Regions from separate parts of the Homo sapiens genome. Here regions 1, 2, 4, 5, 6 and 7 are each reported to be linked to region 3. The links are microRNA targets in miRTarBase. Many come from high-throughput screens and were not tested one by one. Region 3 holds a microRNA gene; each other region holds the end of a gene's coding sequence. Distances are from middle to middle.
What was found. Region 3 holds the annotated microRNA hsa-miR-6867-5p (UGUGUGUGUAGAGGAAGAAGGGA, at 2,410-2,432, shown strand). A microRNA usually pairs through its seed, bases 2 to 8, with sites in the 3' UTR of a target mRNA and lowers its output. Matches are read on the target gene's strand: a 7mer-m8 pairs with bases 2 to 8, a 7mer-A1 pairs with bases 2 to 7 and ends in A, and an 8mer does both.

Region 1 (4,423 bases), not on the chromosome of region 3:
GACAAGCTTCTGCCCCCTGAACCTGGTGCAATCAGGGTCTGGTCTAGGCTTTGCAGAGCTGGGAGGAAATCCCTGGGCCTCCAGCTAACGCTGTCCAAGGTGCTGAATACCGTACTCAGTGTGTTGCCACTGGCTGAGCTGGTGCAACCTTTCACCTCTGAGAAACGTTTTCCAAGACAGGACAGTGTTATGGAGCATGGACTCAAGCCTTGGGCCATCTACATCCGTTCTTTCTCCACCAAGATGAGTTAGGCGACCTTGGCCACGTGACCCCCACCTTTCTGAGCCAAAGCACTTAAAACACATAATAAACATTCAAAACCATAGCACTTAGAATCAGGAAGTCCTTTTATCGTTTTTCACAGTATAAGGCACTTATTTTTTGATATCATTCTCTTTTTTTAAAGGCAAAGGAATTACAAGTGAACACACTAGTCATGGCCCATCAGAATGATAGATGCTTATCTACAAAAACATTTCCTGACTTCTTGCTGAACCTCTTGCCTCTGGGAAATACTGCTGTTTGCTTACTTAAAAAGTGGTGAGAAATTAATATGATTCTCTCTTCCCTTTTAAAAAATTAAATTTGTATAAATATAAGGCGTACAAGTGCAGTTTTGTTACACGGATATATTGCGAAGTGGTGAAGTCCAGGCTTTTCCTGCAACCAACACCAGAAAAGTGTACACTGTACCCATCAGGTACTTTCTCATCCCTTACCCTCCTCCCACCCTTCTGAGTCTCCAATGTTTGTTCCACACTCTATGTTCATGGGTACACTTTATGTAGCTCCCATTTATGAGTGAGAACATGAAGTATTCGACTTTCTACTTCTAAGTTATTTCACTTAAGATAACAGCCTCCAGTTCCATCCAGGTTGCTGCAAAAGACATGGTTTCATTCTTTTTAGTGGCTGAATAGTATTCCATTATGTATACATACCACATGTTCTTTATCCAATCATCTGTTGATGTGATTCCCTTTTCTTTGCATATTCTTGGGGTACTTTTGAATCAGTTCTTTTAAGTTTTTGGGGAAGGAGATTTGGTTTCATTTTCATTACTTTCAATTATCTCCATTATCCTTCTGCAAACCCATGTGCCACAATTCAGAGCATTGTGCATACGTAAGAACAGAGTGAGAGCTCCTTTTCATTTCCCCCTGGAGGAACCCCCATCCTGGAATCGAAGCCCTCTGTTTATGATCCAAGTGTCACCACATCTCAAGTCTCAATGTGTGTGTGTGTGGTTTTTTTTTTTTTTTTTTGAGACAGAGTCTTGCTCTGTTGCCCAGGCTGGAGTGCAGTGGCATGATCTTGGCTCACTGCAACCTCTGCCTCCTGAGTTCCAGCGATCTCCTGCCTCAGCCTCCCGAGTAGCTGGGATTACAGGTGTGCACCAGCATGCCTGGCTAATTTTTGTATTTTTAGTAGAGATGGAGTTTCACCATGTTGGCCAGGCTGTTCTCAAACTCCTGATCTCAGGTGATCTGCCCGTCTCAGCCTCCCAAAGTGCTGGGATTACAGGCGTAAGCCACTGTGCCTGGCCCAATGTGTGGTTGTTATTAGCTATGCCCTTTACCGAACTCCTTTTCTTGACCTCCTATACCTACACCTGTTGTAAAGAAACAAATACAAAACAGGATTTCAGCAAAACACTAAAAGAAGAGCGTTCTAGTTTTTTAAAAAATTTAATTTTCTTGTGGCACATAACAATGAACTCTGGTGTCACCAGCCTATTGTATAATTAACTTCTCGTCTTTTGTTCCTTATGAATTTACATATTTAATTATCTTTCCATTTAATTTCCCATGGTTTTGCTACGTTGACTAAACTCTGTAATGAGAAAGTCTTTTAATTTAATAGACTTTGCAGGTCATGTGTAACCAGCTTTGGAAATCATTTTAGGATTACTGAGTGCTGTTTCATAATGCTGTATATTTTTCCTGCCAGGATTTGGAGTACCTAGGTTATTTGTCCACCAGAACAATGGCTGTAAAGGAGAAAATTGAGCAGTGGTCAGAAGCTGCTGAGAAGATGCGGTAAAACAGGTTACATAAAAAACAATGCTGGTTTGAAATAACCTATGCGCTTTTGTCAAGGGATTTTGCATTAGTGCATTTAGTCCAAGTCAGGGCCAATTCAGAGGATGTGGCTGAAGGCACCGTTTTGGCCTTTTTTGTTTCTTTTGAGAGCTCTGCATACATTCCCACTTTTCCTGTCAAAGTGGACAAAATGAAGAGTCTCATGAGTGGAGGGGCATTCTGATCCCAAGAGACCACCCATCTGTGGAGTGGCTACACAGCCAGAATGTGGATGTGAACCAACTCAACGTGCTCCCCAGAGACTGAAGAAGCGGCGTTTTAGAGCTTTGGTTTCAGTCTCTTGGAGGAGATTTTCAGAAATGGCCAATTTATGTGCAAAGGTGACTTTTCTAGGCACCCAGGAAGGCAAATTTAAGCTCCGAGCTGTATCAACTGCATTCTGTTCCTATCATCAGAAGTCTCAGAATTGAACAGTAAATGGTGCCTACTTGGCTCCTTGTCAAAATAAGTCTGCATGGCTCTCACAACAAGGGAGACAGCTGTTCGTTCCGCTGGAAAGGAAAGGAGATGAACTTTGTTTTGCCTAGCGTTTTGGGAATCGTGACCACAATTTAATACAATCAGGTGTAGTTTGTTTAAGGAATTATCAAAGATCATACTTGGCTGTCAGATTGGAATTGAGGTCGATAGGCAGACTTTGACCATATGCTAACCAGAATACAATCCAATTCAAAAGTGGAGTTGAGAAACACAGCATTAGGAGAATTTATTCAAACATCCATGCAGAGATAGTCTAATATTTTAAAAACTGATTTCCAGGATCATTCGCTCCATTTTAAAGGAAATGCAGTTCTATTTTGAATATAATTCAGGACAGGGCCCCAGCTCTCTGATTTATGCAAAAGGACATAAATTCACAAACCTGCCTGGGCTATTTTTATATTTCAGCAAGAGGTTGTGTGCAGCTGCTGTTTCTGGCAAAATAAAAAAATAGTGCAAGTGAAAAGTGAACGGGAACGGGAAGGAGCGTCATTTTTTCTTGATCAAATCCATGAGATCGTCTTCTATTCCTTTCTCACTCAGCTCATCTAGACTGTAGTATCGGTGAACAATTTTCTCGGCGGTGACCACCACGACTCGGAGCCCGTGGGGGTCTCTGCCCAGCTGGCATCCAATGGCAGATGACACCACCATGTCGAGGTTCTGGTAGGTACCCCCGGCATTCCTGTGGTAGTGGCCTGAGAACACGACTTTGACACCTGCAGAGAAGGGAAAAAGTCATTAGGGGGCCGAGGACTTCCATTAGGTAACCTAGGGTCTCCAGCATTTTATTCTGTGAACAGTAATATATTAAATATATTATTATACCATCATGTAGAATTATCATATTAAATGTATAATATTATTCTGTATATAATCAACAAATAGAAAGCGTATGTGATGTCCAGAATCTTTGAAAGGATACTTCATATATATAATATATTATTAACATGTTTGTCATAACTTGTACAAAGACGTACTAGGGAAGAAAATGAGAGAAGGAAGATGAAGTGAATGACTTTGAGAAAAGACAAAGGAGACTGAAGAAAACAGCCTGAGTCCTATAGAAATATCCAGATGACAAAAGTTATGTATTTTAAAAATAACATTTATGGCCAGGGATGGTGGCTCATGCCTGTAATCCCAGCACTTTGGGAGGCCAAGATGGGTGGATCACTTGAGGTCAGGAGTTCGAGACCAGCCTGGCCAACATGATGAAACTCTGTCTCTACCAAAAATATAAAAAAAAATGACCAGGTGTGGTGGCTCACGCCTGTAATCACAGCACTTTGGGAGGCCAAGGTGGGTGGATCACAAGGTCAGGAGTTTGAGACCAGCGTGGCCAATATGGTGAAATCTCATACTAAAAAATACAAAAATTGGCTAGGCGTGGTGGCAGGTGCCTGCAGTCCCAGCTACCTGGGAGGCTGAGACAGGAGAATCACGTGAACTCGGGAGGTGGAGGTTGCAGTGAGCCAAGATCATGCCACTGCACTCTAGCCTAGGCAACAGAGCGAGACTCTGTCTCAAAAATAAACACATAAACCAACAAATAAATAAATATAAAAAAATTAGGAGGGCCTGGTGGCGGGCATCTGTAATCCCAGCTACTCGGGAGGCTGAGGCAGGTTATCGCTTGAACCCAAGAGGCAGAGGTTGCAGTGAGCCTACATCGTGCCACCGCACTCCAGCCTGGGCGACAAGAGCAAGACTCCATCTCAAAATAAATAAATAAAAATAATGTTTATGGCATTCTAATTAAGGTAGCAGAGCATGTCTGACATATGATCAACCCCCTCTGCTCCAAACAGCCGTAGTGGATGAAACGTAAAACAGAAAA
Region 2 (4,423 bases), not on the chromosome of region 3:
TGACATGGGAGAAGACACACTTCCCTGTGTACCTAAAAATAAATAATAAGTAAATAAATAATAATAATAAGAAAGTCATTTTTGCTCCCTCCCCCAGGTCTTAATTCTTCTTTCTCTTTTAATCATGTTTTTCTGTGTGCCACCTTTGCTTTGCTTATTTCCCCCACTGCTTGTTCTGTCTGATGGCATTTCTGGGAATCTGTGTCCTAAAGGCTTTCTTGGGTTTATTGGTGAGTTTCAGCTCTTTTTCACTCTAGTTCTGCATAAGGGGTGGGCATTAGTATTTATTGTAAATGCATTGGAAATGGGATCTCAACAACAATAACACACACACACACACACAAACACAAAAATGGAGTATTAACTTGTTTCTTAAGCCATAACTGAATTTAGAGTTCTCCCAGTAAGTCATGCGCTTTACTTCTCTCTGGCATTTCTTGCTTTTTTAAAAAAAAGCAATTTCATTAAAAGACTATTCTCTTTTTTGGCCCAGGAGCATAGGAAACCAGTTATAAAAACTGTTGGCATGCTTTGCAGAGAGATTCTCAGCAAAGAGGCTTTTTTTTTGTTTTATTTTGTTTTGTTTTGTTTGAGTGGGGGCTTGGGAGGGCTCCATCTGCCTTAGTAACTGGCTAAGTAACTGGCCTGGGCTACTCAGTCTGTTTCTCTTCCTCCTGCCTAGGGGCATTTCTTATCTGGGCAAAAAGCCCCTGTACCCAGCGAGGTGAAACTTGCAAATGATACTGTCACCTTCCTCAATGGACTGCAGCTCAGGAGCTCACCAAAGGTTGCAGCAGACAACCCCCACGGTGTTTGGAGACAAAGGAATAGCAGCTGCCTGGTTTCCTTGAATCACCCCGTGCTCTGACGATGGCAGTGATGGGCCTCCCACCAATGGCTTCCCCAAGTGCTGTTTTCCTGCTTCATGCCAAGTTAAGCATTCTGATACTAAGCGGCACGAGATAGTTCTCAACTGGGTGAGGCACAGGTGTGAGTAATCTCGAGGTATGGTCAGGAGGTTTGAAAAAACTAACCCAGCTGCAAGGAAAAGACCTCTGGTCTTTATTGGAAACACGAATTTGACCTGTCCAAGCTGGGAGCTAATAGGCCCCAGCAGCTCAGGATCCCCTCCTCACTTACGCTTGGGTTTTGAGTGATACCATATTTTTCTGAACACATTTTCCAAATGCCTATTTGCCAAAGCCGTGGTGTAATTTGCCTAAGCAGCAAACTTGTCCTTAGAGTCGAGGTCCATCCACATCAGGAGAGTATATTCAATGTTTATCTCCGATCAATGTGTGATGAATTGCATATGAGATAGATTTGTGTGAGCCAATGTGTGTGTGTGGATCTGTGTTAGTTACATGTGTTTATTTGCATGTATGTAAATATGACTGTGTGAGTGCATGGATCTATTCCTGCATGATATATATTTATATATATGAATATGTGCATATATATGCAAATATGGGTATAAATATGTATCTGAACATATAGGTGTGTATCTGTAGTGGACACTGTCAATGCACTCATCCTCCAGTTACTTAGGCATCCCAGCTTCTCAGCTCAATGGGGGCCGCTTGCCCATCCCCCCACCTCCCAGGGCAGCCCAGAATTCACCTACCAGGGTTCAAAGGCTGGCTCCCTTGACTCAAGGTCAAACTATCTGGGTGGTGCAATTCATGCTCCAGTTGAAACCAACCCTTGCCCAACTCTTTTCTTGCCCTCTTCTTTTTCTCTTACTCCCTTTCCCTCGGAGCCCACTCTCAGTATATCCTATGCGTCCAAATCCCCATCTCAGGCTCTGCTCCAAGCAACCTGGCCTAAGACAGCACTATTCTATACATGCATGTGTGTGTACATGCAAACATACAACTGCACACATTTGTGTGTGTGTGTGCCCATATACAAGGAAATCCGGGAAGATCTGGGAGAGAATGATCTTCCAAAGAAGATAATGGAGAAAGAGTATGGATTTTATAATGTAGAAGTTAGAGTCATCTCAGATATAGAGTGGGACTGCTTTGAAGTTGAAAATTAAAAGATACTTTAGAAGTAAATGTATTTTTTATTAAATCAGAAAAAGAAAGATACAGTTTACATGACTGTCAGTCAATCATATGCTACTTTGAATTACATTTTAATAGACTCAGGGTCCTATTTACTCCTTTGTACAGGTATTAAAAACAACTCAGGTATTTGAGAAGTCTTCTGTAAATTTTTATTAACTGAGGTTATGGGGAGGGTTTTATCAGAGCACATCCTGAGAACATTAGGAATGACAGACACACTTGAGATAAGTGTCAGACGGAACAGATGAAGCGAGCCCCTCAGCCATCTGAGAAACATTAATAATGTAAGATAGCAGAGACCAAATCTTTGTTAGGGATACAGTATTACAGGATAAAAATGGGGACCTTGCCGCCCCCTTGTGTTGCAAAATAACCGTGCAACTTCCTTTATTTTTTATTTATTTTTTTTTTTTAAGTTGTAATCTTTGCCGTTGTCACTGAGCCTCAAAAGCAATTGTTTTCCCAAATCATTTTAAGCCCTCCCCAGTCAATCTTTTCCCTCTCATCAATAACTTACAAGGACCCTATTTGAAAAACAACGCTTATTCATTCCTTTTTCTATACCCCACACATTCCGTTCTAGGAAATTGGCAACCACCCAACACAGCCCGGGTTCTCCCTCCTTGAGATGTGAATTTAAACAAATGGATTTTCGTCTCCCTTCTTCAAGCTTAGAGGATAAGCACGCATTTACTACAACGCTTAATTCCTTCTAGCAGCATTTCTCTTCTATAACTTACTTGCCACTGCCTTTTTTTTTTTTTGATAGAATCTTGCTCTGTCGCCCAGGGTGGAGTGCAATGGTGCAACTTCGGCTCACTGCAACCTCCACCTCCTGGGTACAAGCGGTTCTCGTGCGTTGGGCTCCCGAGTAGCTGGGACTACAGGTGTGTGCCACCATGCCTGGCTAATTTTTGTATTTTTAGTAGAGACGGGGTTTCATGATGTTGGCCAGGCTAGTCTTGAACTCCTGACCTCAGGTGATCCACCTGCCTCGGCCTCCCAAAGTGCTGAGATTACAGGCGAGAGCCACCACGCCCGGCCACCACTGCCATTTTCATCACTTAACCCGAACACATTCCTCTATTCCCTCCCTTTCCTGCTTGGTGATCATCGACTCTTCTGACCCAACTAGGTGACCTGCTAAACCATCTTTACTGTTATTTGCCAGAAAAGACTGGACCAGAGACGTAAATAATACACCTCAATATACAACAGCTCGGGCTTAATTTCTAGGCAGAATTTCATTTGCTGGCCATCAGAAGAATATATACATGGAGCGTGTTTGGGGAGGAGATGGAGTAAGGAGAACACATCTTGGTGGCAGGAGAACCTGGTGGGAACCGTGCTGATTTGTTTACTTGGATTTGCCAACTGGTCCGATGGATACTGGGTCTGTTTGCACTTGAGCATCCAACATCCGCTTTGGTCCCTGGAGAAAAACAGAAAGACGTGGCAGCCTATTGAAGCTCTGTAATGTCAACAGCAACAATGGCCATTTATGTAGCACTTACTCTGTGCTAGGTGTTGGGCTAAATTAATATATCTCATTCCTCAGTGCTGGGTAAGAGAATGGTCTCCAGTCAGATGCCCGGGTTCGATACCCAGTTACATGACTTTCTAGCTTTGTGAAATCTTGGACAAATTACTTATCATCTCTTTGCGCTTTGGTTTCTTTATCTTTAAAATGGAAATGACAAACTTATCTCAGAGGGTTGTTCCCAAGATAAAGTGAGTTCATGCTTATAATGTACTTAGTACCTAGGGGGTACTAATTCTACCTCACTTTAGCTCCCTCCCCAGTTACCATCTAGGTTCACCACCCTGTTTTATTTTCTTCTTTTTTTTTTATTATACTTTTAAGTTCTAGGGTACATGTGAGCAATGTGCAGGTTTGTTACATATGTATACATGTGCCATGTTGGTGTGCTGCACCCATTAACTCGTCATGTAACATTAGATATATCTCCTAATGCTATCCTTCCCCCAACCCCCCATCCCAAACCCTATTTTATTCTCTCTCAGAACATACCACTCTCTGAAATGATCTTATTATCTAATTTATTTGTCTAACATCTGTCTTCTACACCAGATTGGAAGCTGCAAGGATTCTGCGTGTCTCAGTGCCTTGCAGGTTCCTAGCACATGGTACCTAGCCTTAACATTGACTGAATGTGGGTGAAGGAATGTTGTCAGGCAGATACAATTATTTTATTTTATTTTTTTGAGACAAAGTCTTACTCTGTTGCCTAGGCTGAAGTACAGTGGTGGGACTATGTTCACTGTAGCCTTGAAGTCCTGGGCTCAAATGATCCCCCCACGTCAGCCTCCCCAGTAGCTTGGACTACAGG
Region 3 (4,423 bases):
TTTTCCACCCCTTCCGCCCCCGCCCTCCTGCCTTTCGCTCCTCATCGCCTTGCACTGCCATCTTCCCACCCACTCCCCTCACCCCCTGGCGCCCTGGCCGCCCCTCCGCTGCCGTGGGTGCAGCTGGAGTTCGTGGACTACGTGTTCCACGGGGAGCGCGGCCGCCGGGAGACGGCCAACTTGGAGCTGCTGCTGCAGCGCTGCAGCGAGGTCACGCACTGGGTGGCCACCGAAGTGCTGCTCTGCGAGGCCCCGGGCAAGCGCGCGCAGCTGCTCAAGAAGTTCATCAAGATCGCGGCCCTGTGAGTGCGGCCGTCGGCGGGATGGGGGGCCGGAGGCCGGAGGCCCGCGCCGCCGCCCGCCCCTGACCCCGCCTCCCACCCCCGCAGCTGCAAGCAGAACCAGGACCTGCTGTCTTTCTACGCCGTGGTCATGGGGCTGGACAACGCCGCTGTCAGCCGCCTTCGACTCACCTGGGAGGTGATGAGACCCCTCCCGTTCCTACCTGGGAATCTGGGCATCCCGGGCTCCCCGAAGTGCGTCCTCCCGGGACGGCCGCCGGCCTGGAGGGAGTCTTTGCGCCAGTTGGAGGGAGGCGCCCTCTTCTGGCATACGCAACCCCAGGGCGCACAGCTTGGCTAATGGACCCTGTCTTTGTGCAAATTAGTGAAAAGCCCGGATCCCGCCTGAGTCACGGCAGGCAGCCCTTGGCCAGGTCAGGTCGCAGACTTGGCTGTGGGAGTTGGGCTGATTTTCATCCACACTCAGTGGGGGCATCTTTATACAAAGCACCTGCATAAGACAGACCTGGCCTTCCCCAGAATAATGAATTCCTCTGGGCTGTTTCAAGCCTCTAGACTTAGCCAAGGCCTGACTTCATTTCCCCACCCACCAGCTTCCCAGCCCCCTACAAGCCATGCAGGCCCTTTTGCCCTCCAACAGGGAGAATTAATCCGAGGCTCCCATGTAACCCAAGGAGCTCCACTCTGATATCCCTTCTCCTTCCTTCAAACTCTGCAGAAGCTGCCAGGGAAATTCAAGAACTTGTTTCGCAAATTTGAGAACCTGACGGTGAGTGGGTTTGGCTCTTTCTTCTGCTCTTGGACTGAGAGCCCAGAAACCCTCTGTTCCCATAAACCCCCTTCCTCAAGCTTTCCTTTCAAGGTGTTTAGTGTATGGGACCCCCCACCCTCCTTACCATGCTGGAGGGTGAGGTTGGAAGGATTGCGCCCCTGTTTTTCTTGAAGGAAAGGGGGAGTAGTCAGGTCCCTCCCCACCACACCATTAGAAAGCCCCCAGCACCCCTATCTGATCAGGAATGTATACAAGGCAGGGGGTGAGGGAGGAAGCTGAGGACATCTTTGGGATGCATTGGCCAGTCTGTCCCTTGATCTCTCTCCTGTGGAATACTAGGACCCCTGCAGGAACCACAAAAGCTACCGAGAAGTGATCTCCAAAATGAAGCCCCCTGTGATTCCCTTCGTGCCTCTGATCCTCAAAGGTGAGAGAGTTACTCCCAAGCTGTGCCGCTTCCACCCATGCTTCCCTTCTCCTATGCCCTGCTTCTGACTTCCAGCTCCCTCTCGACTCAGCCCTGAGTACCCACCTGGAGAGGAGCCCCCCACCACAGACGGAGTGGGTTCTGGGGAAGAGCGGGGTCCTCGGGTGCAGTGGCCCCTTTCGAACTCCTCTCTTATCCTTTCCTCACATTGGATTCTCTCCACATCCCCTAGACCTGACTTTCCTGCACGAAGGGAGTAAGACCCTTGTAGATGGTTTGGTGAACATCGAGAAGCTGGTGAGTGAGTGGCACTGCAAACCCCTAGTCCCACAAGTGGGGGGCTTGCATCCTCTCCCTCTCTCATCACCTCCCAAAAATAGCAGCCTTCCTCCAAGTGCCCAGCTTGCCTAACAGACTCTTGACTGTCTCCCTGGTGGCATCACTGTGGCAACCCACCCACAGGTGGCAGAGCTGACAGGCAGCTTGGGGGCAACTTCACCTCCCCCTCACATGGCACTCTGTTACACCCACTCCTTTGGTCCTTCAGAGACCCTCCAGAATTGGAGACTGGAGGGAGTAAAGCAGAGTGGGAGAATGGCGGAGGGGGAGCATAAGAGGGGGAGCCTCTTTCTGTGCCCCTTTCAAGGCTCATTCCTTGTCATCTCCCAGCATTCAGTGGCCGAAAAAGTGAGGACAATCCGCAAATACCGGAGCCGGCCCCTTTGTGAGTACCCAGGGTACTGAGAGCAGTACAGATAGAGCTTTGACTGAACGGGAGGGTTCAGGGGAGAACTCCCTGTCCAGATGTGTATTTCCATACACTTGCTGGTTCCCCATTCTCTCCTTGCCTCTGCAGAGGCCTTCCTGCCCAACATCTGTCTCAGTCCACAGCCTGATCTTCTGCCCGGTGTGTGTGTAGAGGAAGAAGGGAAGCTGGGAACCTGACTGCCTCTCCCTCTTTACCCACTAGGCCTGGACATGGAGGCATCCCCCAATCACCTGCAGACCAAGGCCTATGTGCGCCAGTTTCAGGTCATCGACAACCAGAACCTCCTCTTCGAGCTCTCCTACAAGCTGGAGGCAAACAGTCAGTGAGAGTGGAGGCTCCAGTCAGACCCGCCAGATCCTTGGGCACCTGGCACTCAAGCACTTTGCACGATGTCTCAACCAACATCTGACATCTTTCCCGTGGAGCAACTTCCTGCTCCACGGGAAAGAGGTCGATGGATTTACCCCTGGACCCATAAGTCTGTTCATCCTGCTGAAGTCCCCTCCCCATTGCTCCTTCAAGCCAAAACTACACTTTGCTGGTTCCTGTCCCCTCTGAGAAAGGGGATAGAAAGCTCCTTCCTCTATGTCCTCCCATCGAGATCTGTTCTGGGGATGGAGCTTCCAACTTCCTCTTGCAGCAGGAAAGAATGCTGCTCACCCTTCTGTCTTGCAGAGTGGGATTGTGGGAGGGATTGGCAGCCTTCTTCTCCACCACCTGTCCAGCTTCTTCCTGGTCAGGGCTGGGACCCCCAGGAATATTATGTTGCCGTGTGTGTGTGTGTGTGTGTGTGTGTGTGTGTGTGTGTGTGTGTGTGTGTGTGTGTGTCTTCTTTTAGGGAGCAGGAGTGCATCTGGTAATTGAGGGTGGATGTTGTGTGTGCTGGGGAGGGGTCCTTCTGTTTGGTGCTACCCTTGTCTACTCTGCCCCTGGATGGTGCGGGGTGCTTTCTCCACCCCCACACTCCCTGCTCAGCTCCTCGTGCTGCCCTGCATGCCCAGGCTTGTGAGCCAAGCTGCTTTTTGGGGCAGGGAGTAGCAGCAGGTGGGAGGGGTTACCCATCAGCCCTTGCAAGTCCCCCACTCAGGCCTCTGGAAGGTCCAGGGATGGGCTCTGATGAGAGGGTAAAAGATGCTCAGGGAAACACAGGCCTCAGCTGCCTAGAGGACCCTCCCCCTGCCTTGCAGTGGGCTCGGGTAGAGCAGTATCAGGAGCTAGGGTTGTCTGCTGCCCACACTCCTGCTTTTTGGGATATCTAACTGCTAAGGAGGGAGTTGACATCCCCCTTCTGGCTCATGTGTCTGACACCAACAACATGGTCTCTGTCCCTCTCTCTTTGACTCTCCCTTTGTCCTCCCCATAGAGCTGGGGTGGGGTGGATCCCTATACCTGGGGCAGGCAGCCCCAAAGTGGGGGAGGGGGATGGCAGAGACTGTAAAGGCGCCACTGGACTCTGGCAAGGCCTTTATTACCTTTACTCCCCTCCCTCTCCCATCACCAGCCTCAAGGCCTGAGGGGTGCAGGGGCTCCTGGCAGCTACTGGGTGAGGTTTCCTGGCACAGACTCACCCTTCTTTCTGGCACCACCTCTTTCCCTTTTGAAGAGACAGCAACAGCCGTAGCAAAAGCAGCTGCTGCTCCTGCTATGAGGGTGTATATATTTTTTACCCAAAGCTCTGGAATTGTACATTTATTTTTTAAAACTCAAAGAGGGAAAGAGCCTTGTATCATATGTGAACATTGTATCATAGGTAATGTTGTACAGACCCTTTTATACAGTGATCTGTCTTGTTCCTGCAGCAAAAATCCTCTATGGACATAGGAGGTGCTGTGTCCCATGCCCTCTTGCCCTGACAGTGTCCCATGGGCCCCCTTCTGCTCCCTGCCCCCTCCCTGCTACTGCTGATGCACTCTCCTCTCCCTGCAGCCCCTGGCTTCCCAGCCTTCCTCCTGACCCCTTCCAACAGCCTTGGAACTCCAGCTGCCACCACCCTCTGGGTCGGACACTGGGACCCACTGGCCCAGTCTTGGCTGCTGCTTACCCCTAGCCTTGATGCCTGCCCAGGGACCCCCAGCCCCCTCCCGTTGCCCTGCAGCTTTAACAGAGTGAACCATGTGTATTGTACAGGCGCGGTTGTCATTGCAGAAACCGCT
Region 4 (4,423 bases), not on the chromosome of region 3:
TTATCAGCAAGGTCTTTATGACCTGTATCTTGTGTCAACCTATCTCACCCTGTGACTTAGAATGCCTAACATCTGGGAAGGCAACCCGGTAGGTCTCAGCCTTATTTTACTCAGCCTCTATACAAGATGGAGTCCATCTGGTTTAAACACCTCTGACACACATACCCAAGGAAGTCAGAAGAGGCTTCAGAGCTCCTCTCCACCCTCCTGTTACAGTCTCACCAGTGCACCACAATGTAGCAGTCTCTCATTGTTTGAGGTATCACTGGAGTTCTTTGTCTCACAACAATGAAAATTAAGGAGCGTGGACACCAAGGATGAGGTTGGAGTGAAAGTTTAATGAGTGAGAGAAGAAAGCTCTCTGCTGTGGAGAGGAGGCCTGAAAGAGGGTTGCCATTTTTACAGTTGAATGTAAAGGCTTTTATAAGAAACCGATGAGGACTGGGCAGCTCATCTGCATAAGGCATGAATTTCTGGTAGCTCCCTGCTGTCCTTCTAATGTACATGTGGGCCCTTGGCTTGAGTTACTTACTCCATATTGCTTTGTTCCCCTTACTGCACATGTCAGGGGATGAAATTTTCCATTGCAGGCATGTTTGGGCAAGTCACCTGTGTAGTCTGTCTTATCTATGAGGCTGTGGGCATGTCTTAGGCAAGCCCCCCTGTGCAAGTTCCCATATCTGTGCCTGCAGCTTGATTTTTCAGGCTGTTCTTTTGTTTAAAAGAATTCTACCGAGAACCCACCCTAACTGCCTGCCTGACTGGTTTCTTCCTTTCTCCTCTCTCACTCCTTCTCCAGATGAGGAAACAAGATCAGAGAGGGACAGTGACTTGCCAAGTTCACACTGAGATGAGTCCACCCTGTACCCTCCCCTCCTCAAAAGAGGACCTTACCAAAGGGACTGTCATCGGGGGCCCTCAACATCCATATAGTGATGACACTTGGGAAGAGATATGACAAAAGCAAGAAACAGAATCCTAAGGTCTTAAATGTAATGTTGGAAACAACATTAGAGCTGGAAAACAACTTAAGGAATAATGGTAATGAGGCATTTGCATCATTGTACAATGCTAATGTTATTTTATCTTGAAAACAATCTTGAGAAGTAGGAATTATTGTCCTCTTTCACAAGACAGGAAAAATGAGGCCAAGGGTTAGTGACTTGCTGAGGGTCACACAGTGACAGAGTGGTATCCTGGTCCCTGTCCCTGACTTCTTCCCTAGGGCTCCTCCTCCTGGGCATCTCACTCAGAGGAAGCAGGGCCATCAGTGGTACTGGTGCCAGCTCTTGGGGAGCTATTTTCCCCCAGGTGGGTTAAGTTCTCTCCTAGTATACAACAGGATGGTGGCTACACCGTCATGATAGGGAGAACAGCTATCTTAGGAGGCTGCTTGCTAGACAGAGATGGGTGTGTGTGCGTGTCTGTCTGTCTGTCTGTCTGTCTGTCTGTCTGTCTGTCCTGGGTCCAGAGCCGTCAATTCTTCAGCCTCAGTCTTCCCTCTATTGCCCTCTCCTGGACATAGGGAAGAAGTGCCTCCTCCCTGCTGTCCCCCAGGATTACTCCCTGCCTCTTCCACTCTCCCCACATCCATCCTGAAGTGGCCCCTCTGGCTGTCCACCAGGGTCCTGGCTGTGTCACTCTCTTGGCCATTGGAACGTCCCTGACCCAGGGTTCAATGCACAGTTGTCACATTTATCCCCAGGTGCTATTCCAGTCACTCCAGGTCAGTAGACACCTGTGTGTGTGTGTGTGTGTGTGTGTGTGTGTGTGTGTGTGTGTGTGTGTGTGTAGGGGAATCCAGGCTGCATTCTCCAGCCTTCATTGCTGGACGCCAAGCCAGTGCTCTGGACAATAGAGGCTGAGTCTGAGCCCTGAGTCAGTGGGTGGGAGGCAGATTCCTCGGGACATTGGGTCCCTGGCCAGAGGCTACTTGGGCTCCATTTTCCCTGTCCCCCTGCCTGGGCCAGTCCTCCAGGCCGTGGTCAGTTCCAAGTTACTGTCTTCACTGTGTCCCAAGTGTGTCTTCTCTCTCTATCCTGAGGGGTAGGAGGAGGGTTGCTCCACCCTTCCTCTGAGCCATGGTCTCCCCACCAGTGTCTGTGGGGTGAGCAGCCTCCATACAGAGCCAAGGTCTCAGCCACCCCAGGGTATGGACTTCCTGGAGGCTGCTGGGTCCCCTGTGGGAACTCAGACTTGGAGCCCAGGTGTAGAAGCTGGGGGAGAGAGCCCCAAGTCCAGCCTCTGCACTTCAGTCTTGGGAGAGGCTGACCCTGCAGCCCAGAGGCTCTTAGCTGCCTGGTCACAGCTTTCTAAGGAGGCAGCGGCCAGCAGGAGGCAGCAGTGAGAGCGTGGGCTCTGCGCGGTCCCAGGACAGGAGGGAGGAGCAGCCCCAGTCAGGGCAGGGCCATCCAGAGGCCCAGCAAAGGACACCTGTCCCGACAAGAGAAGCTGCCAACCCCTCTGTGGGTCCCCAGCTTTTAGTCACTGTTTCCTCTCCTCCAGGATGGGACATCACTGCCTCTGGCATTCGTGAGCCCGATTCTTTCTTCCCTAACCTTAGGGGAAGCTGAAGCAGAACGGAGGGAAGCAGAGGACACAGTGGCCCTGGTGGGGAGGGCAGCTCAGCCCAATAGGGTTTCTGAGGCAGACGGGAGCTGAGGTTCTCTGTAAACAGCACTCTCAGGGTTCCCCTGCCTCCACCAAGAGCCCTGGGGTCTGCAGCTCCGAGCAGAAACCACTGGTCACATTTCCTCGGGACTTTCTCCCTGATGCCCTTTGCTCTGGGCCCCTCCCCAGGTTCCTGCCCCCAAGGAGAACACTGGGCTGTGGGGCTGCTTAGGATGGCAGCCTCTGGGTTTGGGAAGTCCTGGGTGAGTCCAGCACTGCACAAGTCCTCCAGCTTCATAAGATCGATACTGGCCCCAATCTTCACCCCTCCTCTAACCCCCTGGGGCCACTCTGGGAGAAGCTCCCCACCCCATGCTTAAGTGGCCTCAGATCAAGTAGACTTCCACATAGGGCTCTGGTCTTCCAGGTGGGTCACGTGTAGAAGGATCGCTGCACATGCTGTAGCCTGCAAGAAACAGGGAGAGCTGAGGAAGTGTCCTGCCCTGCCCACGGTGCCCCGATGCTCCTCCACCAGCCCCAGCCCCTTTCTGGCTCTGCCTCTGGTTCCTTCCAGGTCATCCCCTTAGGGTTGTGCTGGGTGGTCTCCGCCTGGCCGCCCTCCTCCCCAGGTGGAAGCGTCATAGTCCTTTTGACTGGACACAGGCCAAGGGCCATACCACGTGGGGACTCGAGGTCATAACCCTTAGTGCAGTTACCCAGAGCTCTGCCCTCAGGAGGCTGGGAGGTGGGCTCTACTCACTTGCCATGTGTCTCTTCTTCCAAAACCCATAGACCATGATCAGCATCAGCACCAGGAGGGTCAGCACCACCCCAAGCACAGTGGAGTAAACATCCTGGTGCCTGAGAAGAAGGGACAGGGTGGAAGCGGGTGAGCACCAAGGTCCCCCATCCTAACCCACGTTGGGATCGGACCAGCAGCAGAAACCCTGAGAGCGTGCCCTTCCCGGGGTAGACGGCCACCCTCTTCCTTACAGACCCGGCCACAGAAGCAAGTGTGACATCCGGAGTTAAGAGGAGGACGTCCCCAGGTAGAGGGGAACATCTCTCTACTTTGGTACCTCTCCTCCATTATGCCCCCAAATCTGTTCATCAGTGAGGATGAGGATTCTAGGAGACTCCCATTTGTGGCTAAAGAGATCAAGATGCTTGCTCTCCTCAAGGGGTCTGAGGATGCCTGTTCCCCCACTCTATCCTCTGTAGCAGATGCTGTCGGGCCCCTGCCTGTGTCCTCTTGCCTGTGTCATTTCCACCTGCACACATCATCAGCACCTCCTTTTCTGTGGGTGGGAGGCTGAGGCCTTTCTCTTGTCACTAGAGCCCTCTATGCCACACACAGCAGGCAGCCCTCTACTGATAACCAATTGGAGTTGGTGTGTAACTATGCGGGCTCCTTTGCCCTTCAGATGTGTGTTTTATGCTAGATCTGACTCTCCCCGTTGGGATTAGGCTCTTGTTGTGCACAGCAGCTGCTTGGTTAAGTACTCTTTATTAGAGGCCTTCCCTGCCCTGTCCCACTCCCCCACCTTTTTTCCAGTGTTCATATAAGACGCAAATCCCTGACTCAGAGTCAGTTTCTCTAGAGGAATCCAAATTAAAGCATCCCCCATTTTCCACTTCCTACTCCATGAGGCGCATCCTTGCCCTATCCTCACCCTCTCCTCTCCATCCACAGACACTTCAGGACACCCATCCCCTGACATGCTCATCTCTGACTCTCATCCCCCCTGGCCCTAATTCTACCAACTCTCATTGCCCCCTACCCTCATCTCTGCAGCCCCCCTCTCCCCTGATA
Region 5 (4,423 bases), not on the chromosome of region 3:
ATTGTTTCTAAAGCATTTTTTTTCAGAGACTCAAAAGTAAAATGAAAGCAATCTCCGTATTGGGCAGCCCTCCTGGAGTAACTTTGAGCTGGAATGGGTCTAGGAGCCTGTGTTCTCTGTTTGTTCTCATGTGTTATGTTGATGGCATTCCCTTTTCGGCACATCTCCCTCCCCATATTCAAGTAACTCCTTGGTCTGAGCTTTTTGGCTGCTTTTTTCCCCTCTTGCTGTTGCAACCTCACCTTGTTGGTGACTCTACACTGCCACCATGTATTGTTTTAATTTTGAGCACAATGTGAATTCCTTCCAAATGTGACTGATATGCCCTCTTTTGGGGCTAAGAACCCATAGATCACATGCTCTTCTCCTCTGTGAAATGAAACCTCTGGTGCTTCTTTCTTTGCCACCTAATTTCCATGTTTCAATTTTGACCTAAAGCACTTAGTATAATAAGGCAGCTTGATACCTGTGTTGCATAGTCTGAGGTAACACATGGTATCACTTTTACATGACAGTCTAATGTCCCAAGAGATTGTTAATAAAAAGTCCTGCTATGCTGAAAGAAAAAGAGAGAGAGAAAAAAATAAACACAGATCCACTGGGCTCAGGGGAAGCTGAACCTGACCAGTGTGCAGAAAGAGGCAGAGACGTTCCATTTGTCTGGGAAGCACCATGCATACAACTGTTTGAGAGAAAGCACTGGACTAGTCATTCAGTAAAGAAAGCGTGTTACCTCCTGCCTGTAGCCTGAATAAAGCCATGATTGGTGTGTTGTAGGAAAAACGGATCGTGTCCCTGGATTCAGCCAACACCAGACTGATGAGCGCGCTGACCCAAGTGAAGGAGCGGTACAGCATGCAGGTCCGCAATGGCATCTCCCCCACCAACCCCACCAAGCTTTCCATCACGGAGAATGGTGAATTCAAAAACAGCAGCTGCTGACGGGCTTTGTCTGTGGAAGGAGACAGAAGGAAATTGACCCACTCTCCTATCTCCAGACCTTTACCTAGCCCCTCCAGGTTTACAGAATGTTGCTACTTCACAATGGCGATGTGGTGAGAAACTCCTGAATGAAGAAAGGAACCTTGTCTTTCAGGGCATAAGGCGGCGACTTCCAAGGTCAATGCTTTTCCCCCACATCTCTATGTACATAGGGAACTTAGTTCTGGGCCATGTACAGAAAATATCACTGTAATATACCAAAAGGAAGTTAATAATGTAGATTACCTTTTTGATTATTGCTATTTTTATTATTGTTTTCCTCTTGTTGAAAGCACTGCAGTTGTTACAGGAAGTAAAGTAGGAACTGTTGTGTGAGCGAGACATGAGCCTGTAGGTTCAGTAGGTAGAGACCAAGCATCTATCTGATAGAAGCACATGGAGTGCAATAGGACATTGTGAGAAGGAATTTTTCAGGGATTCATCTACTAGTTTAAAAACCCCACTCTGGCCCTCTTGTCCTTTCAGAAAACATGCAAATACCAAGATCCATACAAAACAATAATTTATTCCACTGATCAACCAAGACTGGTTCTGGTTGGACAGCTAATCTGATTTGGGGATTCACTGTTTCAGAGGACACAGACAAAAGCTGTTGCATCAAAACTGGACTTTAGGAGTAATTTCTATTGAACTCCTGTCAATATGTTTATTTCCTCTGTCTACAGCAGATGGGAGTCTTCTCTTTTAGACAGGGGCTTTTTGTTTTTAACCCCAATTGTAATAAAGGGTGTTCTTTTTCCTCTTTAGAGTTTACAAAACTATAAATATTTGTGTCTCCACATACCATCTTCATCTTCACACATTCACTGTGCTTTCCTCCCCATAGTGGGAGCTGTCATCACCAACAGGGTTTACTCTCCCCTGGAGAGGTTATTTAAATAGCTGTCCATAAGCCATCCAGATCAACACCCTTTCTTCCATACAGAAAAGGGCTAACCATACCACAGCTGGAATCTCTGAATATTTCCTATTAAAAATTTTTTCTATGTGTTGTTATAATTTTTGTTTGGGATAAAGACTCTATCCATTGTACTAGCAAATCTATGGGGGGTAATTTTATCTCCATCTTTAACTTTTAAAGTACTTCTTCCCCTTATCCCCTCAATAAAGAAAGGAAATCCAAATTTGAAGCATCACTCTCTTAAAAGAAAAAGAAAATAATGGAAAGTGTCAGGATGGCACATTCCAGTTATTATTCCAATGCTCGTAGATCTGACAATAATGACCCAATTTCAACACTTGTCATCCATAGCCTTATTATTATAGAACAGAAAAAGTCATGGAAACGAATTCATTTCCTTTTTTCCAGAGGTGTGCAATGTCATCTTGAATGCAACCTTGATTACCAGAAGTATGGAAGGTTACATGTTAAACAGACATTATATATACAAATATATATATAATATATATTCACACATATGTACATATAACTGCACAAATAGGAAAAGTTCATGCCTTCTATGCTGTTCAGATATAATGTTAAAAGGGTCTCAAACCTCTTTAAGCAAGATCTAAGTAGTTGTTTTATATTGAGAAAGCAACAATGTTTCTCGAATAAGTTGATGTTGATTTTAAATTATAAGCTTTAAAGAATTTTTTTTCTAGAAAAAGGGGATGGAAAAAAAAGGACCTGAGGGAGCCATATGCATCAAGTGAGTGTTTCTCCATAACAGAATATTTATAAGAGAACATGTATAGTGCCCTCTTTTGAGTGATGCCGACAGACACCAAGCCCTCCTTTTCACCAAGTCCCAGGCTTGCATTCCAGCCTCTTGAGCTCTGCCCTCTCTCAGGTGGATCTTTGTGTTGGACCTTACGTTTCAGCAACCTCACCATGGCCACATAACCCACAACCTTTTAAAACAGTTTCTTTCATAGCAATCCCTGTTTCTGCCAGACAGATCTAAAATGGGAGTTTCTCACTGTGTTTATCTGATCTGCACACTTTATATCCAGCTGTTTTGGCACTTTTACGTTTTCTTCACCTTTGGTTTTGGTTTGCAAATTCTTACACCTTCTCTCCAAGCGGAGGGCACACTGTGGTCAAAATCACTTATTTTATTAGGAAAAAGAGGTAACTGTTCCAAAGTGTAGTGTCCTTTGTTGAAGGAGGAGGGATGTAAGCATAGATTTGTTCTTGTTTCTGGCTATTCTCAGCTCAAGCCATGTTTAATTCATTCTTTGTAAAAGCCTTCAATTGTGCCACAGAAAACCTGGTAAGAGAATTGTCAGTTTCATTGGCCATAAGTATGTAATGTGGGTGATGTCTTGCCATTGAGGTTTGGAAGCTCTTAAGTGCCGATTATGGATTACAGAGGGCTGATAAAATTACTTATATTGGGAATTGAGAGAAGCCCCAAAAAATCAAATGTGCTTTTGATGGATAGAGTGTATCTTATTAGCATTATGGGAGCTCCTTAGAGGGCTGTCTTCACTGAAAGATTTAATGCCCAAAACATTTGGACAGATTATGCAGCCTTCTACTACCAGGTTATCTTGAATGAAGAAGAAATAGTAAAAAATAATAATAATAGAGCATTACCAATAAGCTAAAAGTTCAGAGTTGCTGATAGATGTTAAATGTTAAGTTATCCTGTGAGCCTACTCCTGTCCAACCTTTTTTCTCAGTATTTCTTTAGAGAATGCTGCAATCTGTATAAGTTACTCTGAAGGATTTTTTAAGAAGAGAAGCCACCAACAGGTGATAATTTTTATGGAGATGTTTCTTAATTGGCTTTCCCTCAGTTCAAGTAGGTAAATAACTTTGTTTGCTGGGAGGAGGTACATGGCTGAAGAGAGGCAAATAGATTAAGATAGCAATGTCTTGCACTTCCTGTTTCCCTCAAAACAACACCACATTGTGGGGCGCAGGATAGATCAGGGTTGAGTGGAATTTGGAATTCAGGTGAAGTGCTTGTAAAGTGCATGTCTAGCTGACAACAGACTTGACCATTAATGAGGACAGTGTTGGTAGGAGTCAGAAAAGAGCTTCATATTCCCCTTTTATATTACTGAAGCAATAAGCAATCTGAGCTGAAGCAGCAAAAAGAGTCACATTTCCATCAGGTCATCATATTCCCTGAGTCTCTGCAGCAAAAGCCATGTCAGAGGGGAGATTATAACTAGGTAACTATAACAAGCACTTGAGCACTTACCATGTTCCAAGCACTATCACCAAGGTACTGTTGGGGTTTATGGCAGTCTAACGGTAAGAAAAATGTGGTAAAATGAGGTAATCATGCTGCTATAGCTTTTTGCTTTTTTTCATATAGTATCAAGTTGGTCAGAATTAGCTTTCTCTGACTGGTCTGCTTCCGTGTTTCTCTGTGATGGTGTTAAGATTATGAAAGAAAAAGAAGATTACCTAAGACTGCTACAAGTGTTAACTATATGCCCTTAAGAATGAGCTTGACTTTGGAAG
Region 6 (4,423 bases), not on the chromosome of region 3:
TGGGGTTGCCCAGTTGGGATGCATGTACATGAGGGTAAAAAAAATCACTGGTGGGGCTTGACCATTCCCTCCTTTGTTGTGCTTGCTTCCTGAGAACCAGCACTGTAGTACCAGCTACCCAGTCCTGTAATGTTACTTCTTTCATTCCCAGGAATCCAGCCGGCTGTCTTTGCTTTCCCATGTGCTACACTTATCACTGTGATGTTGGCCTTCATCATGTACATGACCCTGCGGAATGCCACTCAGCAAAAGGACATGGTGGAGGTGGGTACTCAGTGGGGTGGGGGCTGGACTACTGGGCCTTGCCTAGAGAGGATGTTTAGAGAGGGTATGGGGGCCAGGCCAGGATGCCTGGAGGGGGTCTTGATATTACAGCGAGGCTCCGGGACTTGGGGTGATGTGCCCAAGAGGCATCTGTAGACCAGGAAAAATTGCTAAGTTGGTGTCCCATCTGATTTATCTCCTATATCCATCTCTTGCATCTGTGTGGTGCCAGAAAGGTGTTTCTGTGCACTCTGCCACCAGGCAGCTGAGCTCATAAGGCCACCTGATGGGGCTCCTGGTGGGTGGGTGATTGACCCGTGGGATTTTGTTCATCATAGGTGGCTGATTTTGACTTTTCCCCCATGTCTGACAAGAACCCGGAGCCACCCTCTGGGGTCAGGTGCTGCTGCCAGATGTGCTGTGGGCCTTTCTTGCTGGAGACTCCATCTGAGTACCTGGAAATTGTTCGTGAGAACCACGGGCTGCTCCCGCCCCTCTATAAGTCTGTCAAAACTTACACCGTGTGAGCACTCCCCCTCCCCACCCCATCTCAGTGTTAACTGACTGCTGACTTGGAGTTTCCAGCAGGGTGGTGTGCACCACTGACCAGGAGGGGTTCATTTGCGTGGGGCTGTTGGCCTGGATCATCCATCCATCTGTACAGTTCAGCCACTGCCACAAGCCCCTCCCTCTCTGTCACCCCTGACCCCAGCCATTCACCCATCTGTACAGTCCAGCCACTGACATAAGCCCCACTCGGTTACCACCCCCTTGACCCCCTACCTTTGAAGAGGCTTCGTGCAGGACTTTGATGCTTGGGGTGTTCCGTGTTGACTCCCAGGTGGGCCTGGCTGCCCACTGCCCATTCCTCTCATATTGGCACATCTGCTGTCCATTGGGGGTTCTCAGTTTCCTCCCCCAGACAGCCCTACCTGTGCCAGAGAGCTAGAAAGAAGGTCATAAAGGGTTAAAAATCCATAACTAAAGGTTGTACACATAGATGGGCACACTCACAGAGAGAAGTGTGCATGTACACACACCACACACACACACACACACACACACACACACACACACAGAAATATAAACACATGCGTCACATGGGCATTTCAGATGATCAGCTCTGTATCTGGTTAAGTCGGTTGCTGGGATGCACCCTGCACTAGAGCTGAAAGGAAATTTGACCTCCAAGCAGCCCTGACAGGTTCTGGGCCCGGGCCCTCCCTTTGTGCTTTGTCTCTGCAGTTCTTGCGCCCTTTATAAGGCCATCCTAGTCCCTGCTGGCTGGCAGGGGGCTGGATGGGGGGCAGGACTAATACTGAGTGATTGCAGAGTGCTTTATAAATATCACCTTATTTTATCGAAACCCATCTGTGAAACTTTCACTGAGGAAAAGGCCTTGCAGCGGTAGAAGAGGTTGAGTCAAGGCCGGGCGCGGTGGCTCACGCCTGTAATCCCAGCACTTTGGGAGGCCGAGGCGGGTGGATCACGAGATCAGGAGATCGAGACCACCCTGGCTAACACGGTGAAACCCCGTCTCTACTAAAAAAATACAAAAAGTTAGCCGGGCGTGGTGGTGGGTGCCTGTAGTCCCAGCTACTCGGGAGGCTGAGGCAGGAGAATGGTGCGAACCCGGGAGGCGGAGCTTGCAGTGAGCCCAGATGGCGCCACTGCACTCCAGCCTGAGTGACAGAGCGAGACTCTGTCTCCAAAAAAAAAAAAAGAAGAGGTTGAGTCAGCAGGGACTTGGGTTCCCTGTGTGTGAGGGGGGCATTCTTGCCTGCCAGCTGCTCCCGAGGTGGCCTTGAGAAGGAAGAAGCAGGATGACAGAGCCTGAGCAGCGGAACCAGCCTGCACCCTCCCTTCTGGCCCAGCGACCTGGGCTGTGGCTGAGACAATAATGAGGCCAGAAGTAGCCGGAGCCTGTCAGGAAGGGCAGGGGAGGACTGTGGGGTCTGGGCTCTGTCGCTGTAACCATCTGCTCCCAGGCTGTGTGCAGAAAATGGCATTTACACTATTGTGCAGCTCATTCTCATGAAATACTGCCATTGTTGCTAAATAAAGCTTGTGTGCTCTGAATATAGCCAAGCATAGACGGTGTGGCCAGAGTCTCTCTTTTGTGCATGGACGTTTTTGCCTTGCAGACAGCAACGGCAGTGCTGTGACGCAGCAGGACATCCCACTTGTCCTCTGTGGTGAAGACAACTGAAGGGAGCCAGTTCAGGTCCCTGGAGGTGGGGAGAGCTGTCCCCAGGTGACTTGGACATGCATCCCTGTCTGAGACCTCAGGGGGATTCTAGAGCCAGAGGAGGAACGTGGACCACACCTGGGGACGTGTTGGAAATGCAGACCCTTGGGCTCGACCTGATACCTGAAGCAGTGCCTGGGTAGGGGGGCAGCCACCTGTTTTCACAAGCCCTCTGCGATTCTGGTGCATATCAGGTATGAGAACCACTAGTCTCTAGCAGGCTTCTTAAACTTTGAGGTTCATGAGAATTGCTAGAGATCTTGGTAAACAAGAATTTTCATTTTGGAGGTCTGGAGTGGGGCCTGGGATTCTGCGTTTCTTTTATTTCTTTTTATTAATTTATTTTGAGATGGAGTCTCACTCTGTCGCCAGGCTGGAGTGCGGTGGCGTGATCTCGGCTCACTGCAACCTCTGACTCCCTAGTTCAAGCAATTCTCCTGCCTCAGCCTCTCAAGTAGCGGGGATTACAAGCACGTGCCACCATGCCCGGCTAATTTTTGTATGTTTAGTAGAGATGGGGTTTCACCATCTTTGGCCAGGATGGTCTTGATCTCCTGACCTTGTGATCTGCCCTCCTCGGCCTCCCAAAGTGCTGGGATTACAGGTGTGAGCCACCACACCTGGCCTTATTTATTTTTATTTACTTATTATTTCTTTTAGACAGAGTCTCTCTGTCATCCAGGCTGGAGTGCAGTGGCACGATCATAGCTCACTGCAGCCTCGACCTCCTGGGCTCAAGTGATTCTCCCACCTCAGCCTCCTGAGTAGCTGGGACTATAGGTGCATGCCACCATCCATGGCTAATTTTCTGCTTATTTTTTGTAGAGATGAGGCTCCACTATCTTGCCCAGGCTGGTCTCAAACTCCTGAGCTCAAGTTATCCTCCTGCCTTGGCCTCCCAAAATGTTGGGGTTACAGGCGTGAGCCACCGCACCCAGCCCTGAGTTTTTTGTTTTGTTTTGTTGAGACAGAGTCTTGCTCCAAGGCTGGAGTGCAGTGGCACGATCTCGGCTGTCTACAATCTCTGCCTCCCGGGTTCAAGCGATTCTCCTGCCTCAGCCTCCTGAGTAGTTGAGACTACAGACACCCACCACCCCACCCGGCTAATTTTTGTATTTTTAGTAGAGATGGGGTTTCACCATGTTGGCAAGGCTGGTCTTGAACTCCTGACCTCGCATGATCCACCCGCCTCGGCCTCCCAAAGTGCTGGGATTACAGGTGTGAACCACCGCGCCTGGTCCCGTTGCTGTTGTTTTAAGCCACCTAGTTCGTGGTACTTTGTTTCGGCAGCCCCAGGAAACAGACTTCCCCACGTCATTTTCGGCAGCTCCGTCTCTCACATTTCATATCCATCCTGTGAGAAATCCTTCAACTGAGATCCAGAATCTGACCGCTGCTCCCTCCTCCCCTGCTGCCACCACCCTGGTCCCTGGCAGGGCTCTCATAATGCCTGGCAGCTCCTGCTCACCCCTCACTGAGCCAGAAGTTTGTCCACAAAACTGCTCCAAGACCACATCTTCCTCTGCCCCAAACCCTTCAGTGTCTCCCTTCTCAGAGCAAACCCCAAATCCTTCTGGTGGCCTCCCAAATCCCTGTCCAACCTGGCCTGTGACCTTGTCACCCCCAGCCCCTGCTGCTTGTCTGGCTGGGTCTTTCCCGAGTTGTTCCCTTTGCCGGGCAGGATGCTGTTTCCTGGACACGTGTGGGGTTCCCTCTCTGCTCCTTCACGGCTGTTCAAACATCACCTTCATCTGTGAGGTCAACTTGGCACTCTCCTCTCCTACCTGCCCTTATACTCATGGCATATGTCACCTTCTAACATACTATTTATTTATTTATTTATTTTTTTGAGATGGAGTCTTGCTCTGTCGCCCAGGCTGGAGTGCAGTGGTGCGATCTTGGCTCACTGCA
Region 7 (4,366 bases), 1.5 Mb from region 3:
GAAATAAGGGACCATCTGTAAATCCACCCTTCCCATTGCCCCGCCTCCCAGTCCCCCACATTCCCAGCCTGGAGCCCCGAGCTGGCCAGGGTCATGGTGTCCTCCGCTTCCCTCCCCCAGGTGGAGGTTCTGTACGAGGACGAGCCACTGAAGGAATACTACACCCTCATGGACATCGCCTACATCTACCCCTGGCGGCGGGTGAGCCAGCGAGTGGGGCGGGCAGGGAGCAGACTCCCACAGGGTCTGGCATAGGTCTGTGGCCACATGGGCCACCCTTCTGTAATCAGAGACAGTCTGTCCCTTATCCCATGAGCTGCATGTCCAGGGTGGCTTGCTACAGCAGGTCAGCCTCTGGGCCATCTCTTGCGGATGACTTTCCGCTCAGGAGACAAGGCTCCCTGGGCAGACGGTGTCCCCAGATTTGGGGGCAGAAATAGGTGCTGGCAGCTGCCGTGTGTTTGCCTCCCTCTCTCCCGTCTCCTCTCTGACGGAGTCTCTGCTCTTAGACCTTTTCCCTCTCTGGGTCTTCATGCACCCTGTATCCTTGTCTCTCTCCTCTCCAAGGCCCCATCCCATCCCTTTTTTCGAGTTTGGACACTGTGGGGTGGAGATGGTGGCCCTTTAGTTGGACTCTGTCTCCTGATACCTTCCCCTTCCCTGTGTCTCTCCTCCCCACTCTCCCCGCAGAACGGGCCTCTCCCCCTCAAGTACCGTGTCCAGCCAGCCTGCAAGCGGCTCACCCTAGCCACGGTGCCCACCCCCTCCGAGGGCACCAACACCAGCGGGGCGTCCGAGTGTGAGTCAGTCAGCGACAAGGCTCCCAGCCCTGCCACCCTGCCAGCCACCTCCTCCTCCCTGCCCAGCCCAGCCACCCCATCCCATGGCTCTCCCAGTTCCCATGGGCCTCCAGCCACCCACCCTACCTCCCCCACTCCCCCTTCGACAGCCAGTGGGGCCACCACAGCTGCCAACGGGGGTAGCTTGAACTGCCTGCAGACACCATCCTCCACCAGCAGGGGGCGCAAGATGACTGTCAACGGCGCTCCCGTGCCCCCCTTAACTTGAGGCCAGGGACCCTCTCCCTTCTTCCAGCCAAGCCTCTCCACTCCTTCCACTTTTTCTGGGCCCTTTTTTCCACCTCTTCTACTTTCCCCAGCTCTTCCCACCTTGGGGGTGGGGGGCGGGTTTTATAAATAAATATATATATATATGTACATAGGAAAAACCAAATATACATACTTATTTTCTATGGACCAACCAGATTAATTTAAATGCCACAGGAAACAAACTTTATGTGTGTGTGTATGTGTGGAAAATGGTGTTCATTTTTTTTGGGGGGGGTCTTGTGTAATTTGCTGTTTTTGGGGGTGCCTGGAGATGAACTGGATGGGCCACTGGAGTCTCAATAAAGCTCTGCACCATCCTCGCTGTTTCCCAAGGCAGGTGGTGTGTTGGGGGCCCCTTCAGACCCAAAGCTTTAGGCATGATTCCAACTGGCTGCATATAGGAGTCAGTTAGAATCGTTTCTTTCTCTCCCCGTTTCTCTCCCCATCTTGGCTGCTGTCCTGCCTCTGACCAGTGGCCGCCCCCCACGTTGTTGAATGTCCAGAAATTGCTAAGAACAGTGCCTTTTACAAATGCAGTTTATCCCTGGTTCTGAGGAGCAAGTGCAGGGTGGAGGTGGCACCTGCATCACCTCCTCCTCTTGCAGTGGAAACTTTGTGCAAAGAATAGATAGTTCTGCCTCTTTTTTTTTTTTTCCTGTGTGTGTGGCCTTTGCATCATTTATCTTGTGGAAAAGAAGATTCAGGCCCTGAGAGGTCTCAGCTCTTGGAGGAGGGCTAAGGCTTTAGCATTGTGAAGCGCTGCACCCCCACCAACCTTACCCTCACCGGGGAACCCTCACTAGCAGGACTGGTGGTGGAGTCTCACCTGGGGCCTAGAGTGGAAGTGGGGGTGGGTTAACCTCACACAAGCACAGATCCCAGACTTTGCCAGAGGCAAACAGCCTTCCAATTGCCCCTCCACCCCCAGCTGAGGCCCGGTCACCTGGTCAGGACAGAGCAACTGCATCTAAAAGCACAAGAAGACAGAAACCTGTAAGCTCTGACCCCACCCCCACCCCTTGAGAGGTCAGCGGACCACCTCCTTAGGGACAGACCCTGGCAGGTCGCTGCCCACCGAGATTTCCTCAAGTGTGCATAGATCTGAGAGGAGTCGGGAGTCGAGACTCGAGATTCCATCATAGCGTAGGTGTGTGGGGTTGGGAGCCCCCTGATGGGCTTGTCTGTGTTTGCACCTTGTCCTGTGTCTGAGGTCCTGTGACTGTACCCTCCTTTGCCCTGGGACATCTGTATCTCTTGGCTTTGTAATAAATGCTGCATACTTTCTGGAGCCTGTAGTTCTTTGGGGTGGAGGGAAGAAGGGAAGGGTGCCTCTCATCTCTGGGTTTAGCCTGGCTTGGGGACCCCATACAGAATGAATCTGAACTGCCCTCTCCTGTGGCTGGTCAGGTGCCCCCAGCCCACAGAGAGGTTAAAATCTGGAGCAGGAGGCAGCACGTGGGCCTCATAGCAGTGACTGCAGGACTACCAGTCTGGTTGGGCAGGCTTGTTTTTGCCATCTTCCCCATCAGCAAACATTGAACCAGGGCCCACTCCCGCCTGCCCCAGACTGGAGACTTTTAGGTTATAAGGAATAATTCTTCCTTCATGAGCCAGCAGTGGGTACCAGAGTCTCTTGGGCTCAGCACCTGTTTCCTTTCCCACAGAAGGGGGTGCCTGTCAGAGGCCTGGAGCCAAGGCCACCTGTGGCTGGACAGCAGCAGCCCCCTCAGAGTGGGGAGCCCACTTCTGCCTTCTGCACGCGCTCACTCCTGTGGGTGCCATCGCAGTACGGGGGCCTCTGAGTGGCCTTGCAGGTACAGAGTGCCACCATGCGGGTCTCTTGGGCCTTGAACTTGAGTGGAGATAGGCCAGTGCGTTGGAAGAAGTGGGAGCCGTCACAGAAGGGCTGGTGGGGGAAAGACAGGAGTCAAAGACCTGACCCCACCTGCTGGGGCAGGGCAGGGCAGGCTGCAGGAGCTCAGGGGGAGTGGAGCACAGTGGTTAGGGTACAGGCTCCAGAGCAAGACTGCCAAGGCTCACTGAGTGACCTCTCTTATCTGTAATGTGGGGGTGATAAGAGTAGAGTTGTATGAGGAAATAAAATATGATCGTGATGCACTTTGCCTATAGTAAGTGTCTGGTAAGTATTTACAGAGTCTTTATAGCATTAGTCTCTGGGACACCCAGAGGGCCAGGACACTAATAGAGTGTGAGTGTGTGTGTGTGTGTGTGTGTGTGTGTGTCTCTGAGTCTCCACTGGATCATGAAATTCATTTACTTCCCATGTTCCTGGGTTAAAACTTCTTTGGGCTGGAGAGTACACTGTGGTAGCAATTTTGTTTGGCTCCAGGGAATAACTGGGCACGTGACAGGGAGTGAAGGTTACAAGGAGGAGGGGATGCCCCATAGCAAACTGGCTGGCTGGCACAGAAGTGTACTCCCCATCCCAGAAGCCGCTCAAGCAGAGACTGGGTAATGGAAACAGGCCCAGAAAGGTGACATGCCTTGCTAGCTGAAGGCAGAGCTGGTGCCAAGGCCTTTTTTTTTGACAGGGTCTCACTCTGTTGCCCAGGCTGGAGTGCAGTGATGCAAACACGGCTCACTGTAGCCTCAACCTCCTGGGGTCAAGCGGTCCTCCTTCCTCAGCCTCCAGTATGGCTGGGAACACAGGCCTGCCTCCATGCTAGTCTTTGGTGGGGGTAGAGGCATTTGTAGAAGCGGGGTCTCAACTTTGTTGCCCAGACTGTTCTTGAACTCCTGGACTCAAAAGAGCCTCCTGCCTTGGCCTCGCAAAGTGCTGGGATTACAGGTGAGCCACCTCGCCTGGCTGAACCAAGGCCTCTTGACATTGGAGTTAGGGTGGGATGGAAAGGAGATGAGAGAAGCGTGCAAATAGAAACCAGCAACTTGTCTTAGAGGGCTTGAGGTGCATGGACCTAAGTGGGACTCAAGGACCCTGGGCTGCTGACACCATGCCACATAGCTTGAAGGAATACCAGTCAGAGCTCTGCTCAGGAAGGAAAGGGGCCAGGGAGGCAAACAATATGGGCAGGTTCCTGCTGGGACGAAAGGCTCCTGGGCAGAAGGGGAAGCAAGTGGGGCAGGCAGTGAAGCTGAGAAGACAGCAAACTGTGGCAAGCGGCCAGGAAGTCCCATAAACTGAGAAGGAAGAGTTTTCTGGAAGAAGAGTAGAGAGGGGCACAGGGGAAGGCTGGGAGGCTTTGGAGGCAGGAGAGCCTGAGCAGAATCTCTTCCCA

Region 1: miRTarBase lists CPPED1 as a target of hsa-miR-6867-5p. Seed matches in the 3' UTR shown: 8mer at 1,240-1,247, 8mer at 1,238-1,245, 8mer at 1,236-1,243 and 8mer at 1,234-1,241.
Region 2: miRTarBase lists BCAS1 as a target of hsa-miR-6867-5p. Seed matches in the 3' UTR shown: 7mer-m8 at 2,960-2,966.
Region 4: miRTarBase lists TREML2 as a target of hsa-miR-6867-5p. Seed matches in the 3' UTR shown: 7mer-A1 at 1,786-1,792, 8mer at 1,784-1,791, 8mer at 1,782-1,789, 8mer at 1,780-1,787, 8mer at 1,778-1,785, 8mer at 1,776-1,783 and 20 more.
Region 5: miRTarBase lists RASAL2 as a target of hsa-miR-6867-5p. The part of its 3' UTR that is shown has no 7-base or 8-base seed match.
Region 6: miRTarBase lists TMEM130 as a target of hsa-miR-6867-5p. Seed matches in the 3' UTR shown: 7mer-A1 at 1,297-1,303, 7mer-m8 at 1,298-1,304, 8mer at 1,305-1,312, 8mer at 1,307-1,314, 8mer at 1,309-1,316, 8mer at 1,311-1,318 and 12 more.
Region 7: miRTarBase lists CISD3 as a target of hsa-miR-6867-5p. Seed matches in the 3' UTR shown: 7mer-m8 at 2,257-2,263, 8mer at 1,768-1,775, 8mer at 1,766-1,773, 7mer-A1 at 1,301-1,307, 8mer at 1,299-1,306 and 8mer at 1,297-1,304.

The regions. Positions count from the first base shown.
Region 1 is chr16:12,661,814-12,666,236 of GRCh38, forward strand. CPPED1 (calcineurin like phosphoesterase domain containing 1) reads right to left here. Exons shown (of 4, transcript NM_018340.3): 4 at 1-3,302. The coding sequence ends at 3,073. Among named protein-coding and RNA genes, the nearest start is that of SNX29-AS3, 53 kb to the left of the region's middle.
Region 2 is chr20:53,941,493-53,945,915 of GRCh38, forward strand. BCAS1 (brain enriched myelin associated protein 1) reads right to left here. Exons shown (of 13, transcript NM_001366298.2): 13 at 2,049-3,504. The coding sequence ends at 3,430. BCAS1-AS1 (BCAS1 antisense RNA 1) reads left to right here. Exons shown (of 5, transcript NR_199019.1): 5 at 683-2,089. Among named protein-coding and RNA genes, the nearest start is that of BCAS1-AS1, 28 kb to the left of the region's middle.
Region 3 is chr17:40,191,193-40,195,615 of GRCh38, forward strand. It overlaps MIR6867 (microRNA 6867), which reads left to right and starts at 2,405; the gene lies at 2,405-2,471. RAPGEFL1 (Rap guanine nucleotide exchange factor like 1) reads left to right here. Exons shown (of 15, transcript NM_016339.6): 9 at 124-302; 10 at 390-480; 11 at 1,021-1,071; 12 at 1,414-1,501; 13 at 1,734-1,798; 14 at 2,171-2,225; 15 at 2,472-4,423. The coding sequence ends at 2,596. RefSeq lists a silencer at 290-349 and enhancers at 470-549, 3,251-3,751, 3,376-3,425.
Region 4 is chr6:41,189,431-41,193,853 of GRCh38, forward strand. TREML2 (triggering receptor expressed on myeloid cells like 2) reads right to left here. Exons shown (of 5, transcript NM_024807.4): 4 at 3,371-3,471; 5 at 319-3,076. The coding sequence ends at 2,997. Among named protein-coding and RNA genes, the nearest start is that of TREML2, 9.5 kb to the right of the region's middle. RefSeq lists enhancers at 1,913-2,420, 2,039-2,108.
Region 5 is chr1:178,472,298-178,476,720 of GRCh38, forward strand. It overlaps RASAL2 (RAS protein activator like 2), which reads left to right. Exons shown (of 18, transcript NM_170692.4): 18 at 778-4,423. The coding sequence ends at 942. Among named protein-coding and RNA genes, the nearest start is that of CLEC20A, 22 kb to the right of the region's middle.
Region 6 is chr7:98,844,424-98,848,846 of GRCh38, reverse strand. It overlaps TMEM130 (transmembrane protein 130), which reads left to right. Exons shown (of 8, transcript NM_152913.3): 7 at 152-264; 8 at 639-2,357. The coding sequence ends at 791. Among named protein-coding and RNA genes, the nearest start is that of TMEM130, 23 kb to the left of the region's middle. RefSeq lists an enhancer at 132-1,331.
Region 7 is chr17:38,731,925-38,736,290 of GRCh38, reverse strand. CISD3 (CDGSH iron sulfur domain 3) reads right to left here. Exons shown (of 4, transcript NM_001136498.2): 4 at 686-3,015. The coding sequence ends at 2,836. It overlaps PCGF2 (polycomb group ring finger 2), which reads left to right. Exons shown (of 11, transcript NM_007144.3): 10 at 121-201; 11 at 691-2,393. The coding sequence ends at 1,068. Among named protein-coding and RNA genes, the nearest start is that of CISD3, 3.8 kb to the right of the region's middle. RefSeq lists an enhancer at 841-1,368.